2 separate regions of the Homo sapiens genome follow, and region 2 is linked to region 1. A link means that fine-mapping ties the variant in region 1 to the expression of a gene that starts in the linked region. Tissue or cell type: whole blood. Region 1 holds a variant in brackets; the other region holds the start of a gene. All regions are shown on one strand. Distances are from middle to middle.

The links. PIP is the estimated chance that this variant, and not a neighbour inherited with it, causes the effect.
Region 2: PSEN1 starts here. The variant in region 1 is fine-mapped to the expression of PSEN1 in whole blood (TOPMed, PIP above 0.99).

What each region holds. Positions count from the first base shown.
Region 1 is chr14:73,175,786-73,183,785 of GRCh38, reverse strand. The region is part of intron 5 of PSEN1 (presenilin 1); the gene reads right to left. Among named protein-coding and RNA genes, the nearest start is that of PSEN1, 43 kb to the right of the region's middle. The variant C/G (reference allele first, on the strand shown) is at 3,320.
Region 2 is chr14:73,132,281-73,140,554 of GRCh38, reverse strand. PSEN1 (presenilin 1) reads right to left here and starts at 4,048. Exons shown (of 12, transcript NM_000021.4): 1 at 3,972-4,048. RefSeq lists an enhancer at 3,589-3,698 and silencers at 3,869-3,928, 4,189-4,268.

The DNA.
Region 1 (8,000 bases):
GATGACAATGGCGGCTTTGTGGAATAGAAAGGCGGGAAAGGTGGGGAAAAGATTGAGAAATCGGATGGTTGCCGTGTCTGTGTAGAAAGAAGTAGACATGGGAGACTTTTCATTTTGTTCTGTACTAAGAAAACTTCTTCTGCCTTGGGATCCTGTTGATCTGTGACCTTACCCCCAACCCTGTGCTCTCTGAAACATGTGCTGTGTCCACTCAGGGTTGAATGGATTAAGGGCGGTGCAAGATGTGTTTTGTTAAACAGATGCTTGAAGGCAGCATGCTCGTTAAGAGTCATCACCACTCCCTAATCTCAAGTACCCAGGGACACAAACACTGCGGAAGGCCGCAGGGTCCTCTGCCTAGGAAAACCAGAGACCTTTGTTCACTTGTTTATCTACTGACCTTCCCTCCACTATTGTCCTATGACCCTGCCAAATCCCCCTCTGTGAGAAACACCCAAGAATTATCAATAAAAAATAAATTAAAAAAAAAAAATACAAAAATTAGCCAGACATAGTGGCACACACCTGCAGTCCCAGCTATTTGGGAGGCTGAGGCAGGAGAATCACTTCAACCTGAGAGGCGGAGGTTGTGGAGAGCTGAGATCGCACCATTGCACTCCAGCCTGAGCAACAGAGCGAGACTCCATCTCAAAAAAACAAAAAAGGTAAGCTGAGAACATCTGTACATTTCCCTCCAAATACTTCAACTTTAGCCTAAATTTTATCTCACTCTTTAAAACTTGTCTGTCTTGGCCAAGACAAACAATACCAGTGGGAGATGTACACTGGGATTCCATATTAAGCTTTAAATTAAGGACCAGAGTAAATATTAAATAATTGAAATTCTCATCATTCTTGAGAGATGCTTTTCACCTCGGTTTTTTGGCAAAGGAAGAAGGAGATGTTCTTATTTATTTCTTTTTTTAATTTTATTTATTTATTTTTGGGAGATGAAGCCTCACTTTGTCGCCCAGGCTGGAGTGCAGTAGCATGGTCTTGGCTCACTGCAACCTCCACCTCCCAGATTCAAGCAATTCTCCTGCCTTAGCCTCCCGAGTAGCTGGGATTACAGGCACCCACCACCAACGCCCAGGTGATTTTTGTATTAGAGATGAAGTTTCACCATGTTGGCCAAGCTGGTCTTGAACTCCTGATCTCAAGTGATCCACCCTCCTTAGCCTCCCACAGTGCTGGGATTATAGGCGTGAGCCACCATGCCCGGCCTAATTTTAATTTTTTTAACTGTACCTTCTAGGAGCCCCCAAATATTTTTTTTTTAATTATTTTTTGAGATAGGGCCTCACTGTGTTGCCCAGGCTGGGGTACAGTGGCATGATCGTAGCTCACTGCAATCTCGAACCACTGGGCTCAAGCCATACTCCCACCTCAGCCTCCCTAGTACCTAGGACTATAGGCGTGGGTACACCACCATGCCTGGCTAATTTTTTAATTTTTTTTTTTTCTTTTTGTAGAGGTGGGGGTCTCACTCTGTTGCCCAAGCTGGTTTTGAACTCCTGGCTTCAAGTGATCCTCTGGTCTCAGCCATACTGGTGAGAGTCACCGTGCCCAGTCTTGCTTATTTTAAAAATAGCATTTTTCTGAATCAAAAGTAACATATGCTTGTAACACTTAAGAAACACAGAAACACTAAAAGAAGAAAACTATTCTAAAGGCCAGTGACAACCAAAATTAATACCAACATTTCCCTTTCAGGCCAGGCACAGTGGCTCACGCCTGTTATCCCAGCAGTTTGGGAGGCTGAGACAGGTGGATTGCCTGAGGTCAGGAGTTCAAGACCAGCCTGACCAACATGCCAAAACCCCGTCTCTACTAAAAATACGAACATTAGCTAGGCGTGGTGGCAGGTGCCTGTAGTCCCAGCTACCATGGAGGTTGAGGTGGGAGGATTGCTTGAACCCAGGAGGTATAGGGTGCAGTGAGCCGAGACAGTGCCACTACATTCCAGCCTGACTGACAAAGTGAGACATTGTCTCAAAAAAAAATACGAAACAAAATAAAACCGTTTCCCTTTCAGACATGTTTTCTATCTGCACGTATAGGCGTGTGTAAAGACCTTAACAGTGAGAATCAACTAGTGTACTGTTTACATTCTGCTTTCACAAATGTAATCTTTTATTACAAACATATTCTCATGCCACCAAATATTATTTGAAAATATGATTTTTTTTTAAGAGACTGGGGTCTCACTATGTTTCCCAGGCTAGACTGGAAAACCTGGGCTCAAGCAATCATCTCGTCTCAGGGTCCCAAGTAACTGGGTCTACAGGTCCGTGCCACTGCACCTGGCGTGAAACTATGATTGATTGACTGATTGATTGATTGATTTTGAGATGGAGTTTTGCTCTTGTTGCCCAGGCTGGAGGGCAATGGCGCAATCTCACCGCAACCTCCACTCCCCAGATTCAAGCGATTCTCCTGCCTCAGCCTCCTGAGTAGCTGGGATTACAGGCACTCGCCACCACGCCCAGCTAATTTTTTTGTATTTTTAGTAGAGACAGGATTTCTCCATGTTGGTCAGGCTGGTCTCGATCTTCTGACCTCAGGTGATCCGCCCACCTCAGCCTCCTAAAGTGCTGGGATTACATGCGTGAGCCACCACGCCCAGCTGAAACTATGATTTTTAAATGACAAAATAATAGTCTACTCATACGGATAAACCCACAATTGAACCTTTGCCTTATGCATGGAATCTGTATTGTTTTCCCTTTCTTTCCCCAATTTTAATTTACATTAAAATGAACATCCTACTTCACAAATATTTTTCTGCATTTCTAATTCCTTCTTTAGAATATATCATAAAAGCAAAATTACTAAATCAAAGTGTACAAACTTTTTCTAATTACTGATTTAATTAATACACACTGGCTTAGTTACTTGACAAAAAAGACTAATCTTGACAAAGTCAATATGTCAAATATGTTAATTTGTTATTTTCATATGCATTTCTTTTATTACTATGTTATACACACACATTTCAACAGGCCTTTCTCATCTTGCAAAAATCCCTAGTTCAGCTTTCCTGTGCTAAAGGGTATGAAAGAAAACAGCCCTGCTGTTTTATAGTACACAACAGTATCTTCTCTAAACCCTAAACTATCAAGGCCAGAAATCATCTGACTTTAATAAGTTATAGTTCCTTTTATAACAAATTATGTATAATAATTAACTGCCTTTCCTGTTTTTAACATTTTAAGGTTTGGTCTTTTAGTTTCTAGGGCTTGCCACAGACATTGCATAACCAACCACTGATATGAAAAATCCTCAGGGTTTATTTCCAAACAGGCTCTGGCAAGTTACT[C/G]AATCTCTGACTCAAAAGATCCTTTTAGTTATACTGGGTGTCAAAGTAAACAACTTGTTTCTATATAATTGTTTGTGTGTGCTAAGACTTGAACATTAAAAAACATCACAACACAAATGAACAAGTAAATGTGGAGATCTGGCTGAATACAAACCTCTTAAACTGTCTAAAATGAAGGATAAGGCTGGGCGTGGTGGCTCAGGCCTGTAGTCCCAGCACTTTGGGAGGCCGAAACCAGTGGATCACCTGAGGTCAGAAGTTCGAGACCAGCCTGGGCAACATGGGGAACCCTCATCTCTACTAAAAATGCAAAAATTACCCAGGCATGGTGGCGTGTCCCAGTAATCCCAACTACTTGGGAGGCTGAGGCAGGAGAATCACTTGAACCCAGGAGGCGGAGGTTGCAGTGAGCCAAGATCATGCCACTACACTCCAGCCTGGGCGAGAGACTGAGACTCCGTCTCAAAAAAAAAAATAAAATAAAATGAAGGATGGATAAAAGATGTACAAATGCGACAAAAAATATATTAAGAAAGGTTCCAGATAAGATGGAGTAAGTACCTTCCACTCTCTCTATCCCACTGAATACAGTTACAAAACCTGGGCAGAAAGCAGGCAGCAGCTGGTTGCAAAAGATGAAAAGTAATGAGAGGTAGGTGGGCTGGGGAATTAGAAGTACTAGCAGTGAGCTGACCACTTTTTTTCCTCCACCTGTGCTCATTACAACATGAGTGGGCATTAGCAAGACAATGGGAGCTCCAGAAGACCTCTAGTTCTGGCTTGAGGATCAGGAAAGAGGTCTCCTAACACCCAGACAGTGTAAAAATCCAGTTTTTCTTCCTTTTTTTTGGAGACAGAGTCTCGCACTGTAGCTCAGGCTGGAGTGCAGTGGCACGATCTTGGCTCACTGCAACCTCTGCCTCCCGGGTTCAAGCAATACTCCTGCCTCAGCCTCCTGAGTAACTGGAACTACAGGTGCCCACCACCATGCCTGGCTAATTTTTTGTATTTTAGTAGAGACAGGTTTTCACTGTGTTGCCCAGGCTGGTCATAAACTCATGAGCTCAGGCAATCTGCCCGCCTTGGCCTCCCAAAGTGTTAGGATTACAGGCGTGAGCCACCACACCCGGCATTCTTTTCCGCTTTTCTCCATTCTCGTATGCCCAGTCCTCACACAATCCTGTGGTGATGGTAATGTGGGTGGCAGAAGCCTAAAATTCAGAGGGAGGGAATCCTTACTCTGACTGGAAGAATGTCAGTCCCGAGAGAGTGGGGCAAATAGCCCTTGCTTTATTTCTCTCTCTCCTCCCACATTTTGGCCCTGACTTTAGGAAGATAAAGTCCACTTTTGGCTGCAGGAATGGAAAAGGGAAGCCCAAGAAACCACATGGAGATCACAGAAAGAAAGAAACTCATGAAAGCAATCTCTTAAAGCTGTTTATAAACTTGTGGGTCCATTCCCAAGGTGAGTGAGTATGGATATGATCCTCAACAGTACACACCGACCCTGACAACCGAATTACAAATAGAACACCACTATACCAGTCCCAGACTGGTGACTGGGTGGCATATACATGGGGCAGATCTGAGCAACACTGCAAAGGCTTTGACAAGGCTGGCTGGACCTAGCCCAATCAGATCAATTGGCCAATAAAACAAAAATATCAAAATCCTTGGAGCATAAAAATGCTCCAAGAAGTAAGGGCAAACACTCTTAAAATGAAAGGAAAGTTTTAAGTTTCAGAATAAAAAAATGTAAAGACGGGCTATATAGGAATTTTAGAACTAAAAATAAAATAACCAAAAACATTTTACTGAATAGGTTTACCAACAAAATGCAAATTTCAGGAAACTTGAAGACAGATCAATAGAAATTATCTAACCAGAACAATAGTGAAAAAAATTGGAAAATAAACAGAGCCTCAGAAACCTGTGGAATAAAAAGTTATTTGTGTTGTCACTCCCAGAAGAGGGTAAAGAGCCAGGCATGGTGGCTCACGTCTGTAATCCCAGCACTTTGGGAGGCTGAGGCAGACGGATCACTTGAGGCCAGGGGTTTAAGACCAGCCTGGCCAACATGGTGAAACCCCATCTCTAATAAAAATACAAAAATTAGCTGGGCATGGTGGCACATCTCTGTAATCCCAGGTACTTGGGAGGCTGAGGCTGCAGTGAGCCAAAATCACATCACTGCACTCCAGCCTGGGTGACAAAGCGAGACTCGGTCTCAAAAAAAAAAAAAAAAAAGGGCCGGGTGTGGTGGCTCACACCTGTAACCCAGCACTTTGGGAGGCCCAGGCAGGCGGAATACTTAAGGCCAGGAGTTCAAGACCAGCCTGGTCAATGTGGTAAAACCCCGTCTCTACTAAAAATTAACAAAATCAGCCAGGCATGGTGGCAGGCACCCGTAATCCCAGCACTTTGGGAGGCTGAGGCAGGAGAATCACTTGAACCGGGAAGGCAGAGGTTGCAGTGCGCCACTCTGTTTCAAAAAAAAAAAGAGTAAAGAATGTGGTACAGAAAAATTTTGAAGAAATAATGGTTGAAAAATTTTCCAAATTTGGTAAAAGACATAAACCTAGAGATTCAAAAAGCTCAGTGAACTCCAAACAGAATGAACAAAGAAATCCTCACACAGTCCCATAATTAAACTGCTGAAAAGAAAAAGAAAATTTTGAAAGTGACCAGAACAAAACAATGTATTACTTTTAGAAGAACAGTGATTCGAATGACTGATTTTTATGAGAAACCATGGAGGCTGAAAGAAAGCAGAAGAGCATTTTTTAAATGCTGAAAAGGGGAATATCAAGACAATTTTCTGCCCAGTAACAATATCCTTCAGTAATAAAGGTAAAATTAAAACATCCTAAGGGGAAGAAAAATTAAAACAAATTGAGGCCAGCTGCCTTGCTCTAAAAGCATTACTAAAGGAAGATGTTCAGACAGAGGGCAAATAATACTAGAAGAAAACGGCTGTCCTGGCATAGCGGCTCACGCCTGTAATCCTAGCACTCTTGCCTAGGTGACAAAGCAAGACTTTATCTCAAAACAAAAACAAAAACAAAAACAAAAACACACACACAAAAAAACCCCAGCAAAGCAGTCCTACTGATGATAATGAAATGGTATGAAGGATAATTCATTTGATTTATATGCTACCAGGTATCTGAGTAGAAGAGATATGCAAAGGAGAAAACAAACCAACCATGGGCCCTTCTGGGCTAAAAATACTACATTAAAAGTTATATTTAAGGATGAAAATTTAAACCATGAGATTAAAATATAATTTCCCAAGAAGTAATGGGAGAGACGAAAAAGTCCATCATCTGAGAGTCATGGCTGGTTAGCTTTAGAAAACTGCAAAAAGGACCAAAGTAGGAAGAAAAGCAAAAGCCAGAATCAGTGTCAAGTGGGAGGCAATAAATAAGTCAAATGGCAATAAGGTCCAGAAAAAATTAGGTTCAAAAAGGTCAGCAGATACGACCAAAGGAAAAACTGGTAACCACATGATACGCAGTTTCCATGGAGGCATGAAAAGAGAACCCACACTTCAGGGAGCTGAGGACTGAATTTGAGAGGAATCTTACGTAATAGCTATGTGTGTCAATCCAGGCCAAACTCTGGACTCAAATGTCCATTCTGACCCATTAGGTTCTGACCCACACTAGCTGTGTGACCCCTGCCTCAGTGCCTCATCCATAAAACTGGGATAATAGTAGGGGTTACCTCAAAGAACTAGTGTTTAATTAAAACAAGGCAGATGTAAAGCTATACTGTCCTGTACATGTCACTGCCCAAGATTGGGAAAACCTTTACATGCTTAAAAGCAGAGAAAAGAAGAGGTAGTTTAGAAATGGTGTTTTCTCTTTTATGTGTGAAAATATGAAAACACAGAAAAATTAAATAATTTCCTAAGATTACTAGAAGAAAGAACTCTGAGTCCAGAGCTCCACCTATCCAACTACACAGGTATTTTGTAAGGGAAAGGCAGGAAATCTGAATGTAAATTCTAGATTATAAGAAAGAAAAAGTAGAATTCCACCCTCCAATAAAATCTGAGAAATAAACAGAAGAACAAAAGTATAATGGGATCCTGGTAAAAGTCACAAGGTCAGCCTACTAAAGCAGGGAAACTAAAGGCAAGTAAACACGTGCAGACAAAAAAAGGGATAAAGAAAAGGAATTAAGAAACTAGCATTTTTAAAGTGGGGGAGGTGAATGCTTCCCAGCATGGGTTTATATCACTTGCTTTTTGGCCTTCTGAGTGTTGGTAACAACCTGTCATCATCACACATACCTGTCATCTTTAATGGTCTCCATACATTACTAATAGATTATACAGATGGCCATCACTTAACACTTCCACTCACTCAAATGTTCAACATGCAAGGTTAAACTCTGTATAAGCTTAAAGTTCACAAGCATTGAAAAGGTATGTGATATTACTAGTAACCAACTAAATGCAAATTAAGACATTTTCTTTACCTATAAAAACCAGCACAGTTTTAAAAAAGAAATTCAGCACTGGTGGGGTACGACAGATACTCTCATTCACTACTGGTGTTAAGTACAAATTGATATAAGCTTTTTGAAAACGAGATTTTGAATACCAAGACAGTTATAAATATGTAGATAATTTGCCCCAAAAATTCTACTTCTAGGATTTTACCCTAAGGAAATA
Region 2 (8,274 bases), 43 kb after region 1:
GATAACTAGGCCAGATTTTGCTGTTAAATTAGTTATAAAAAACCTTGGCCAGGTGCAGTGGCTCGCACCTGTAATCCCAGCACTTTGGGAGGCTGAGGCGGGTGGATCACGAGGTCAGGAGTTCGAGACCAGCCTGGCCAATATGGTGACACCCCACCTCTACTAAAAATACAAAAATTAGCCCAGTGTGGTGGCACACGCCTGTAGTCCCAGCTACTCGGGAGGCTGAGGCAGAAGAATCACTTGAACCTGGGAGGCGGACGTTGCAGTGAGCTGAGATTGTGCCACTGCACTCCAGCCTGGGCGACAGAGGGAGACTCTGTCTCAAAAAAAAAAAAAAAAAAAAAAAAAAGAATAGCAAAAAAAGAAAAACCTTTTAGTTTTCGGATTTCAGAACTCTGGATATGAGACTATGGTCCTATATACCTTTGTATAATTATAAAGAATCTTTCCCAATAAGTTATTTAATTTCAATAACTCTATAAGGGAGATATGATTATTCAAAATCATTGTCTAAAATTCTGAGGAAATGGACAGAATACAACTAATTTTTAATGAAAAATGATTATTTACGTCTAATTAATTTGTAAATCACTTGTTATATTTAGCATTGCCTGCAGTCTTTCTTTTGCTTTGATCAACTTAAACAAGAAACCGTACAAGGCGTTGTGAAAAGCCAATACTAATACCTTTTTCCTCACTCTCATCCAAGCAAGAGTATTAATATCTTTCAATCAACAAACATTTACTGGGTTTCTTCTATATAAGCACACACTTGATGAGGGTTGGGAATTCTAATTAATCAGGTATTACTTCTGTTTACTTAAGGAGCTTACTATCTCTAGAGGGCAAAACAAGTAAATTTTTATACTGGTTAGATATTGAAATAAAAATATGTTAGGTATATTGTGTTAAAATAAATTATTCACATTGGTTTCATCTGTTTCTTTTTGCCCCCCTTTTTTTTCTTTTTTTCTTATGGAGTCTCGCTCTGTAGCCCAGTCTGGAGTGCAGTGGCATGATCTCGGCTCACTGCAACCTCCACCTTCTGGGTTCAAGCGATTCTCCTGCCTCACCTCCCGAGTAGCTGGGATAACAGGTACACGCCAACACACCCGGCTAATTTTTTGTATTTTTAGTAGACACAGGGTCTCACCATTTTGGCGAGGCTGGTCTCGAACTCCTGACCTCAGGTGATCTACCTGCCTCGGCCTCCCAAAGTGCTGGCAGATTACAGGTGTGAGCCACTGTGCCCAGCCTTTTTTTAAAAAAAAAACGAAGTCTCACTCTGTTGCCCAGGCTGGAGTGCAGTGGCGCGATCTCGGCTCACTGCAAGCTCCGCCTCCTGGGTTCACGCCATTGTCCTGCCTCAGCCTCCCGAGTAGCTGGGACTACAAGTGCCTGGCACCATGTCTGGCTAATTTTTTGTACTTTTAGTAGAGACGGGGTTTCACCGCGTGAGCCAGGATGGTCTCCATCTCCTGATCTGGTTATCCACCCGCCTCGGCCTCCCAAAGTGCTGGGTTTACAGGCGTGAGCCGCTGCGCCCGGCCACCCAGCCTCTTTTTACATTTTTTTTCTTTTTTTCTTGACAGAGTCTGGCTCTGTCGCCCAGGCTGGAGTGCAGTGGCGCGATCTCCGCTCACTGCAAGCTCCGCCTCCCGGGTTCACGCCATTCTCCTGCCTCAGCCTCCCGAGTAGCTGGGACTACAGGCGCCCGCCATCACGCCCGGCTAATTTTTTTTTTTTTGTATTTTTTAGTAGAGATGGGGTTTCACCGTGTTAGCCAGGATGTCTCGATCTCCTGACCTCATGATCCGCCCGCCACGGCCTCCCAAAGTGCTGGGATTACAGGGGTGAGCCACCGCGCTCGGCCTTTTTTTACCTTTAAAAATGTGTTTATGGCTAGGCACAGTGGCTTGTGCCTGTATCCCACCACTCTGGGAGGCCAAGGCGGGAGGATCACTTGACTCCAGGAGTTCAAGACCAGCCTGGGCAACATAGTGAGGCTCCCATCTCTAAAAAAATAAATAGCCGGCCGGGCAGGGTGGCTCACGCCTGTAATCGCAGCACTCTGGGAGGCCGAGGCGGGCGGATCACGAGGTCAGGAGATCGAGACCATACTGGCTAACACGGTGAAACCCCGTGTCTACTAAAAATACAAAAAAATTAGCCGGGCGTGGTGGCGGACGCCTGTAGTCCCAGCTGCTGGGGAGGATGAGGCAGGAGAATGGCGTGAACCCGGGAGGCGGAGCTTGCAGTGAGCTGAGATCGCGCCACTGCACTCCAGCCTGGGCGACAGAGCCAGACTCCGTCTCAAAAAATAAATAAATAAATAAATAAATAAATAAATAAATAAATAATAGTATGTTTATTAGAAAATTTAAAATAGGGATAATCACCTTGTGGTTCTCCCAGTCTGCATGCTAATAAATTTGTATGCCTTTTCTCCAAAAGAAAAACAAAACAGGTTTTTTTTTTTTTTGAGACAGTCTCACTCTTTTGCCCAGGCTGCAGTGCAGTGGCATAATCTTGGCTTACTGCAACCTCCTTCTCCCGGGTTCAAGTGATTCTCCTGCCTCAGCCTCGCTTGGGAGCAGCTGGGACTACAGGCGCGCGCCCCCACGCCCAGCTAATTTTTTGTAGAGCCGGGGTTTCGCCGTGTTGTCTGGTCTCGAACTCCTCAGCTCAAGGATCCGCCCCGCGGCCTCCCAAAGTGCTGGGATTACAGGCGTGAGCCACCGCCCCGGGCCTCACATTTTATTTCTATTGGCTAGCGCTGCTCTAAATCTTCTGTTCCTTCTGCTACACCAGGCCTAACACTCAAAATCCCTGCCAACCTTTTCCTTCCTGAAGCTTCCCTCCCCTTCCTCAGCTCTGGCGACCCTGCGCTGTGGTGGTTCTCCAACCACACTCATTCTCCTCAGCTGGCTCCTTGCTCTTCTTCCACCCCCTCGTTGCAAGTGTTCCTAAGTGTTTGCCTTGGCCTCCTCTTCCCCTTCCTTAGCTTAGACTTCTCCACTGCTCCAACATCAACTGGAAATCTATGGAATTGATTCCTGTTTTCAGCTCCAGTCCTGTTCACAGGGCATTTTCACCTGCTGGCACTTCCAAAGTGACACTTCCAAACCACTTCCTCGCCCTCCTCTCTAAACCAGGTCTTTCTTCCTAACTTCCTTATTTCTGAGAATGTCTCTGCCATGTTCTAAACTGAAAACCTCCTAGTCAACTTCACACTTTATTCCCTGATCCTCAATTGGTTCCCATGTCCCGTTAGTGTTTCTTGTAAGCCTCTGCCACCACCGCAGATCGAACTCTAATCACATCTCACCTGAATTATGGAAAAGTCACCTCAATTCTCTCACCCATCCCAGCCTCCACTATGGATTAATATGCCTAAAGCAGAGCTGACCACAACGGTGAGAAGAATCTGAGAGGGAAGCAGCAGCAAACACAAGAGTCACTGGACATGCATGCCTCGAGACAGTCCCGACCAAGGAGAAAGCATCAGACCCCGTCTTCCGCCTCGAACAAGAGGCGTGCGGACTTCGCCCAGAATGCTCGTCGCCCCTGGACAAGGACACACCCGGGGCGTGAGGCGCGGAGTTTCACCAGTTGCTCAAGCAGACCCAGCCCAAGACGCTTCCTCTTTCTCCTACTCCACTCCAGTTCAGACGGCTACTAATCCCGGCCCAAGGCACCTGCGCCCTGAGACGTCTTCGAGCAAACAGCATTTCCGGACCAAGGCTCCCCGGAATCTCTCTCCACCCGGCCGCGCCCGAAGCCCGAGAAACGGGCCGCCCCTCCTGGTTTCCCACACGGGGTTCCCCAGCCCCAACCGGCCGCGCCCCGCCCCTCATCTTTTAGGACACCGGCTTCGCGGCCCGGGCGGCCACAAAGGGCCGGGCCCTGCCCGCGGCCGCCCATGTCCGCGGTGCCTTCCTGGCTTGCCCGGACTCCCCATCACGCACATACGCTTCCCCGCCGCCCCGCTGCCGCCGCGGCTCGTAGCTCAGGTTCCTTCCAGACCAGCCGCTGTTTTGTTTCCGATGTGAAACCGCGGACCCCGGAGCTGCCTGTCCCAGGCCCCGCCCGAGAACCCTCACCGTTGTCGTCATTTCCGGCTCTGGCGTCGTTGGCGGCCGGCCCACGGAGGAGGGGAGGAGCCAGGAGGAAGGGGGCGGGGCCTCCGGCCTGGAGAAACGATTGCGGGGAGAACCCAGAGCTCCACCTGGCCTTCCCCACCTGACGGAATCCGCCCAGAGCGCTGGCGTGGGTTGTCGGGGTTCTGAGGCTGCTCGAGCTGAGGACGAAAGCCCCTATATAAATTGGGCCCAGCGTGTGCTTCTCCCGGCATACAAGCGATGGCCATCCTAAATTTAACACCTGTCATTTCTTTAGGGTACCTATTTGCGAACCAGCTGCATCACAATCAAGAGAATGCTGTTAAAATCGCAAATATCTCTGCCCTCTCCCACCACTCAATGAATCAAAACTTCTGGTGGGTGGCGAGAACCTGAGAAACTGCATTTTAAACATCCTCCGCGATTCTTGGACTCCAACTTTGACAACCAGTCTTTCTAGGTGGCAAGCTAGCTGAGAGCAGAAAATGTGTCTGGTTTGCTGGGTCACTTGATTTTTGCATCTGCCTGCTCTTTGTCCAGTTTTGGTAAAGACAGTACCAATGTCTAATTCATTAGACAGCATACCACACTTACACATATATCCAAAAGCTAAAACTAAAAAATGAATACTACCTTATTTAATCAAGGTGAACGGAGAAATGTCAAACATGGGTATTCAAAAAACCGAAAATGAAATTAACGGTACATGGTATCTGGGCAAGTTACATTCTTCTAAAGTTTCTTTAAAAATCCACCCCCAAGCGGCCGGGTGCAGTCGCTCACGCCTGTAATTCCGGCACTTTGGGAGGCCGAAGCAGGCGGATCATGAGGTTGGGAGTTCTAGACCAGCCTAACCAACATGGTGAAACCCCGTCTCTACTAAAAATACAAAAAAATTAGCCGGGTGTGGTGGCGCGCTCCTGTAATCCCAGCTACTCGGGAGGCTGCAGCAGGAGAATCGCTTGAACCCGTGAGCTGAGATCACACCACTGCACTCCAGCCTGGGAGACAGAGCAAGACTCCATCTCAAAAAATAAAAATTAAAATTAAAAAATAAAATCCACCCCAAGCTATCCCTTCACATTCCTATCGCATCAATCTCCAATCCCTCCTCCCAACCCACTGCCAACCTTGTTCAAAAACATGAGATTCTAATACTTTTTACACACAAAAGCTTCATATTTAAGAACAAAAGTAATATTTTCCATTAGCAGAATGAAAGATAAGTTGTGGGAGAAGGTTGAACGAAAAAAGATGTTTTTAAAATTCTTCACCTCCCCCACTTTAACAAGAGTAGGGATTTTAGTTTGTTCATTTACAAGTGCTCATGCTTGTCAGCAGCACATATACATTTTACAAGTGCTGAGAACAGTGCCTGATACATAACAGTGCCTGATACATACAATAGTTCAGTATTGAACAAATACAGGCTAAAACCCATCTATTTGTGAACTACTTCAATCTGATTGCAGTCCGCTAATATTAATAGGATGTCTTAAAATGCTGATGAACTATTCTTAGAAACAATCTACAAAAATTTTGGGCAAAGATATTCATGGAATATTATATAGCAAAAAATTGGGAAACTAAATATGGTACAATAGGCAGGGTGCGGTGGCTCACGCCTGTAATTCCAGCACTTTGGGAGGCCAAGGTGGGCGGCTCATCTGAGGTCAGGAGTTCGAGACCAGCCTGATCAACATGGAGAAACCCCGTCTCTACTAAAAATACAAAAAAAGTTAGCCAGGCGTGGTGGCGCATGCCTGTAATCCCAGCTACTTGGGAGGCTGAGGCAGAATTGCTTGAGCCTGGAAGGCAGAGGTTGCAGTGAACCGAGATTGCGCCATTGCATTCCAGCCTGGGCAACAAGAGCGAAACTATGTCTCAAAAAATAAAAATAAATAAATAAATAAATAAATAAATAAATAAATAAATAAATAAATGTGGTACAATAAATTATGGTCCACCCACCTCACAGAATGTCATGAAAATTTTTCATGAACGCCTGGTCACGGTGGCTCATGCCTGTAATCCCAGCACTTTGGGAGGCCAAGGCAGGAGGATCACTTGAGGTTGGGAGTACAAGACCAGCCTGGACAACATGGTGAAACCCCGTCTCTATTAAAAATACAAAAATTAGCCCGGCATGGTGGTGTGGGCCTGTAATCTCAGCTACTCAGGTGGCTGAGGCTTGAATCTGAGAAGGAAAGTTTGCAGTGAGCCGAGTTTGCACCACTGCACTCCAGCCTGGGAGACACAGTGAGACTCTGTTTTTCCCAAAAAAAAAAAAAAGTCCTGCAACAAAAAGGCAGTAAGATTTTAAAAAAATAGCAAACCCTAACATTGAATAACCAGCCTTCAGATAATTTTCTTCTCATTTTCTTTATGTCCTACTGTTAGGCCTCTGAGCCCAAGCCTTCACGTATACATCCGGATGGCCTGAGGCAACTGAAGGACCACAAAAGAAGTGAAAATGGCCAGTTCCTGCCTTAACTGATGACATTACCTTGTGACATTCCTTCTCCTGGATAATGTCTCTGGAGCTCCCCACCAAACACCTTGTGACCCCCGCCCCTGCCCACAAGAGCACAACCCCCTTTAACTGTAATTTTCCACTACCTACCCAAATCCTATAAAACTGCCCCACCCCCATTTCCCTTTGCTGACTCTCTTTTCGGACTCAACCCACTTGCACCCAAGTGAAATAAACAGCCTTGTTGCTCACACAAAGCCTGTTGGTGGACTCTCTTCACACGGACGTGTGTGTCATTTGGTGCTGAAGACCCAGGACAGGAGGACTCCTTCGGGAAACTGGTCCCCTGTCCTCACCCTCACTGCATGAGGAGATCCACCTATGACCTCGCGTCCTCCCATCAATCAGCCCAAGGAACATCTCACCAATTTAAAATTGGGTAAGCGGCCTTTTCACTCTCTTCTCCAGCCTTCTCACTACCCTTTAATCTCCCTGTCCTTCCAATTCCAGTTTTTTCCTCTCTAGTAGAGACAAAGGAGACACATTTTATCTGTGCACCCAAAACTCTGGCATTGGTCACAGACTCGGGAAGACAGTTTTCCCTTGGTGTCCAATCACTGCAGGAACGCCTGCTTGATTATTCACTCACATTTCAGAGGTGTCTGATCACCACGGGGATGCCTGCCTTGATCCTTCACCTTGGTGGCAAGTACCACCTCCCCTTGGTGGCAAGTACCTCCTCCCCTGGGTGGCAAGTACCACCACCCACTCCAAGTCTCTACCCTCTCTTTTCTCTGGGCTTGCCTCCTTCACTATGGGCAAACTTCCACCCTCCATTCCCCTTTCTCCCTTAGCCTGTGTTCTCAAGAACTTAAAACCTCTTCAACTTACACTTGACCTAAGACCAAAACACCTTATTTTCTTCTACAACCCTGCTTGGCCCCAGTACAAATTCGACAATGGTCCCAAATAGCCAGAAAACGGCACTTTTGATTTCTCCATCCTACAAGATCTAGATAATTTTTGTCGAAAAATGGGCAAATGGTCTGAGGTGCCTGACATCCAGGCATTCTTTCACACATTGGTCCCTCCCTAGTCTCTGCTCCCAATGCAACTCGTTCCAAATCTTTCTTCTTTCTCTCCTGTGTGTTCCTTCAGTCTCCACCCCAAGCTCTGAGTCCTTTAAATCCTCCTTTTCTACGGACCCATCTGACCTCTCCCCTTCTCCCCAGGCTGCTCCTCACCAGGCCGAGCCAGGTCCCAATTCTTCCTCGGCCTCCACTCCCCCACCCTATAATCCTTCTATCACCTCCCCTCCTCATACCTGGTCTGGCTTACAGTTTTGTTTCGTGACTAGCCCTCCCCCACCTGCCCAACAATTTCCTCCTAAAGAGGTGGCTGGAGCTGAAGGCACAGTCAAGGTTAATGCTCCTTTTTCTTTATCTGACCTCTCCCAAATCAGTTAGTGCTTAGGCTCCTTTTCATCAAATATAAAAACCCAGCCCAGTTCATGGCCCATTTGGCAACAACTCTTAGATGCTTTACTGCCCTAGACCCAGAAGGGCCAGAAGGCCATCTTATTCTTTTTTTTTTTTTTTTTTTTTGAGATGGAGTTTCACTCTTTTTGCCCAGATTGGGGTGCAATGGCCCGATCTCAGCTCACTGCAACCTCCGCCT